2 separate regions of the Homo sapiens genome follow, and region 1 is linked to region 2. The links come from fine-mapping of genetic effects on gene expression. Tissue or cell type: whole blood. Region 2 holds a variant in brackets; the other region holds the start of a gene. All regions are shown on one strand. Distances are between the middles of the regions.

Region 1 (2,500 bases), 160 kb after region 2:
GCAAGAAACATGCTTTTGGCCGGGCTCAGTGGTTCACGCCTGTAATCCCAGTACTTTGGGAGGCCAAGGTGGATAGATTGCTTAAGGTCAGAAGTTCAAGACCAGCCTGGCCACCATGGTGAAACCTCACCTCTAGCAAAAAATACAAAAATTAGCCGGGCGTGGTGACAGGGGCCTGCAGTCTCAGCCACTCGGGAGGCTGAGGCAGGAGAATCCCTTGAACCCGGGAGGCGGAGGTTGCAGTGAGCCGAGTGCCCCTGCACTCCAGCCTGGGCAACAGAGGAAGACTCTGTCAAAAAAAAAAAAAATGCTTTCAGCCCTGAAGGAGCCTGGTTTAGCAGAAGAAACCTATACAAATGTCGCCTAAATATACAAATAGACCATACCTAAAAGACCCTAGCACTGGGCCCAGTGAGGCCCACAGGATTCTATTGGGGGAGAATCAGGCACAGTTCCAGAAAGAACCCTTGAACTACTAAGTCCTGAAGGATGCGCAAAATTCTTCAGTGAGATAAAGAGAGAAATGGCAGTATCCACAGAAACTGCAGACTGGTTAGGGCCTTGTAATTCTGCGCAGCTGGAACGCAAGATTTGGGTAGGAGAGCGGTAGATGAGGTTGGAGAGACAAACGGGCTGCCTTACAGATAGACGTTCCACGAGAAGTTCGTAGTTTTTCCTATTAGGGAAGCTATGGGAAAATCCTAATCTGGGTAACGATGTAACGGGTTTACACTTTAGAAAAATCCGTGGTTTAGGACTCTACAACTCCCATGGGCGGGCTGCCCTAACCCAGGGGTTCCCACTTCCGCTGTTCCGGGATTCACGGACGACTCGCCCCCTTTTCCCAGCCTTGGTCAGCACTGTTACCCCGCCCGCCGTGCGATCCCGCCCCCCTCGGAGCGCCCCTGTGGTCTGACTTCAGCAGCACTTTCCGGCAGGAGACTGGGCACTCGCTGTCACCCGCGAGCTGCCTCCCTCAGCGAGATCTGAGCATCTTTCCGGAGGCTAACAGACCTGGGCTTCGGGGTGACCACTGTGCTTGCCTCAGTTTCCTTTTCTGGAGCAGGGGAAGGCCCGGCTCCCTGCCCAAAGGCGGCTGTGCGCTAAGTGGCAGACGCTCGGGGAGAGCCGGCGCGGGGCGGACCCCAGCGCCAGTAGTGACAGGGGCGAACGCCGCCGGGAGACTCCAGCCGGCGGGCGAGCAGGGTAAGCCAGGCCGTGGGCGGGAGGGCGGGGCAGCTCACCGGTAAAAGGCAGAGTCCCCGAGTGGGTTCCAGTTCGCCGTGTAGCAGTCCATGGCTGGTGCAGACGGCAGCTGGGAAGCACCGAGGGGACACCCACCTAGAGCGGGCTCCAGGCCGGCACTTCCGCTTCCGCCCGTCCGGGTCACGTGGCGAGGCCGCCGCCGCGGCCATCACCACTGTGGGCAGCCTCACTTGGCTGCCGCCCCGAGACCCCAGCCCGTACCTGGGCTTCGCGCCCGCCAAGTGGGCCCAGCCCTGGCTCCTGCGCCCTGTGGCGGCCACCTCCATCGCCTTGCTTTCCCTTCGGGCACTGGGGGTCGCTCAGGGCGGGACATGGGTGAACGGAAGTGGAAGCTGTGAGCGTCGCAGCCCGAGGCGCCGAGGCCTGAGGCGCCGTCGGGGCCACAGCGACGCTCGCATGGAGAGCGCTGGGCGCTGGGCTGTGCACCGACGGCTAACCTGGACCCACGGTCTCTGCGGGGCGGGAGCTTTGCAGAACCGACTGGCCGACTGGGGCGCGGGAACATGAGGCTTGGCTAGGAGCCCGCTGCGGGCCAGGCGCGCGGTGCGCAGGCATACCCGGGTCGCGGGTGAACACCGCGGAGCCCCGGGACTTGGTAATTGGCGCGAGCGGGTGCGCGCATGCGCGGGACGGCGGCGGGCACGTGGCGAGGCGCAGGGCGGCGCCGCGCGGGAAGCTCCCCAGTGCCCTGGAGGCCTGCTGGCTGGACGACCCCCTGCCTCTGGTACCAAGTGTGACCAAGGCTGGCGCCACCATGGCTCTGCTGCCGTCACCTCCTCCCTTTAGCATTGAGCAGCCCCGGAGGGGCTAGCCCTGAGGCTGACCTGCCCAGAGTCCCCACCATCGCGCTGCTTAGTGGCCTCTCCCTGCAGCCTGTCGTTGCTGGTGGCGGCATGGTCTTCTGTCTGTCGAGCGAGGAGCCGCGCCGCCCGCTGCGAAGCGACATGGTCCACTTCCAGGCCTCGGAAGTCCAGCAGCTGCTACACAACAAGTTCGTGGTCATCTTGGGGGACTCCAGTGAGTGCCTCTTCTAGGGTGACGCTTCCAGTCCCACACCTTGCAGCCCGTTCAGTGTGTCTGGACCATTTGTTTCCATCTCACATCTCTTGTCTGTCTTCTGGTCTGTTCCGTCCAGTAGGTTTTCTCTTTTTATGTCCCACACATCTTCCACAGGAGTCCTGACAGGTGTAATAACCTGTGCACTTTTTAGCCCATCCTTGCTCAGCATTTCTCG
Region 2 (2,757 bases):
GTGAGATCAGAAGTATATTTTACTACATTATGATCTCTACATTTTATCATTTTTGTCCTTTAAATTTCAGTGTTTACAGCAACTGGAATTGGTTTTTGTGTTTGATATGTGACAAGCATTCAATTTCATTTATTCCCACAGGGTTACCAATGGTCCCAGGCACTATTTATTGTGAAGACCATCTTTTCCCCACCCAAACTGCAAGAGCATTTCTGTCATAAATAGGTTTCCACTTACAAATGGATCTGCTTCTGGGCTCTTTATTTCATTCCACTGGTCGATCTGTCTATCCCAGTGCCAATACAAAACTGTCTTAATTACTAAAATTTTATAATCTCTTTATATCTGGTAAGGCAGGTCTCCTCACCTTGTTCTTCTTCTTCAGGAATGTCTTGGCTATTCTTGAATCTTTTCTCCTCCATATAAATTTTAGAATCAGCTTGTCAAGTTCCACAAAAAAACCTGTTGGGATTTTTATTGGAATTGCATTGAATCTATATATCTTGGGGGAGAATTGACATCTTTACAAAATTGAGCCTCCTAATCCATTGATCCTATCTCTTCACTAATTTAAGCTATTTTCCTTTAATGTCTTCAAACATTTTAATAATTTTCTCTAAATTGTTAAATCCATTCCTAGGTACTTTACATTTGGATGCTATTGTAATTGGCACCTTTTAAAAGGTATTATTAGGTTTTCTGTTTGTGGCCTATGTATAGAAATGCATTAAATTTTTATGCTGCTTCTGTATCTAGCAACCTTGCTAATTCCATAATATGTCTGATGAATATTAATTCTATAATATGTCATATTAATTCTATAATGTCATATTTATTAATTATAAATATGTCATATATAATAAATTATAAATATGTCATATTTATTAATTCTATAATATAATATGTCATATTAATTCTATAATATGTCTGATGAATCTGTGGGTTTTTCTGAAGACAGTATTTGGTCTGTGAAAAATTTATATTTTGTCCCTTCCTTTGCAATCCTTATACCTTTCTTTTCTTGCCTAGATCTCCAGTACAGGTCTGAATCTCATTCACTTTTAAGTCTGAATCTCCTTTCAATACTCTCACCCAATAGTCACCAGTGACTGAACACTAGAGTGATGGGAAATTTACTACCTTCCAAGGTAGGTCTTGGAACAGTTCTGTTTAAAACGACCCAACACCCAGACACACAATTTCTTTTGCATTTCCCTCGTACTAAGCAATGTAAAACCCAGATGTCAGCGGGCATCTTTTCTGCCCCTTGCAAAACGCAAACTCCCAACTCTCTGGA[C/G]AGTGGAATTCCAAAGCCCTTGTCACAGTTCCTGCTAATTCCCACAGGACTGTGACTCTGATTCACTTATTTTGGGACAACTCATCAATGTAGAGGCGATTTCACCCATCTCAACTCAGATGCCACACTCAGTCCCATCACTAGTGACACACACATGCCTTCTTCACCTGGCAATCTAAGAGATGTGAGGTCCTGAGGAAGGTCACATCTCACATCGCACAGATTCTGACTATTTCACTGGCTTCACCTCTTTCCCTCTTTTCTTTCTCTCCTATCCCATTCCTCTCAGGAGCTAAGCCTTTTTTTTTTTTTTTTTTTGAGACAGAGTCTCACTCTGGTAGCCAGGAGGCTGGAGGGCAGTGCGGTGATCACTGTAGCTCACTGTAGCTCCTGCAGCTCTATAAAGTTAGCACTATAGCTCACACTGTAGCCTCCAAGTGTTGGGCTCAAATGATTCTCCCACCTCAGCCCCCTGAGTAGCTAGAACTACAGGCATGTGCCATCACGCCTGGCTAATTAAAAAAAATTGTTTTGTAGAGATAAGGTCTTGCTACATTGCCTAGGCTGGTCTTAAACTCCTGGCCTCAATCTTCCCGCATTGGCTTCCCAAAGTGCTAGATTACAGGCATGAACAACTGCACCCAGCCAGAAGCTAACACAATTTTATCTTTTTGTTTCTTTTTAAACCTTGATAATGCCTTAAAGACCTCAATTTTCCCTGAAAATGGGGGCTTCTGAGTGGTTTTTCAAAGTATTTCTTTTGAATAAATTCAATGATTCCTAGAAAGACAAATGCTGGTGAACAAAAAAGCTCCAGCTTGTAATTAGGATGAAAGCCACAGCCTAGAACTTCTAATCAGGTGGGCATTCACGGAAATGCTACAGTCTCCTTTTAGCCTGTCACATATCTGAAAACAGCTGTCATGTCCTATGAGTGTTGTTCCTTTAGTTATTCACCCCCATGGTCCAGTTTCTCTCCAGAACAACATCCCATTTGGTGATATCCCTTTTTATAGAGACCTGACCACAAGACTCCTGACACAGTTCAAACTAGGCATAGGAACTTCTTTATTCTAGATGTTATATATCCATCGAAGCAAACTAAGTCCATTAGATTTATTTCCCATATTCAAAAAAATCTGCTTTAAAAATATTATAAAAAGAATATGCTTGTTTTAAGTCAAATAATTTAGTAGAAAACAAAGTTCCCTATTATGTCTCTCCTCTCTTCCAGCCCCCTTGTAGGCAGCCACTGTTGACAATTTGTAGTCTTTCAGACTTAAAAAAAAAAGCATTAACATACCCAAACACACACAGATATACATATTTTTGAAAACAAAAATGAAATTATCCCACATATGTTTTCTCACATAACAATATAACTTAGAGATCTATGTGAACACATTTATTTTAATGATAGTATAGAATATCATAATGGATATAAGAAATCATCTGGCCAT

What was found. PIP is the estimated chance that this variant, and not a neighbour inherited with it, causes the effect.
Region 1: VPS16 starts here. The variant in region 2 is fine-mapped to the expression of VPS16 in whole blood (INTERVAL, PIP above 0.99). The same link has a PIP of 0.9 or more in unexposed skin.

What each region holds. Positions count from the first base shown.
Region 1 is chr20:2,839,572-2,842,071 of GRCh38, reverse strand. VPS16 (VPS16 core subunit of CORVET and HOPS complexes) reads right to left here and starts at 1,327. Exons shown (of 24, transcript NM_022575.4): 1 at 1,245-1,327. The coding sequence starts at 1,297. PCED1A (PC-esterase domain containing 1A) reads left to right here and starts at 1,417. Exons shown (of 8, transcript NM_022760.6): 1 at 1,417-1,861; 2 at 2,139-2,283. The coding sequence starts at 2,160. RefSeq lists enhancers at 519-1,050, 1,584-2,115.
Region 2 is chr20:2,997,036-2,999,792 of GRCh38, reverse strand. All of the region lies in intron 9 of PTPRA (protein tyrosine phosphatase receptor type A), which reads right to left. Among named protein-coding and RNA genes, the nearest start is that of GNRH2, 45 kb to the left of the region's middle. The variant C/G (reference allele first, on the strand shown) is at 1,298.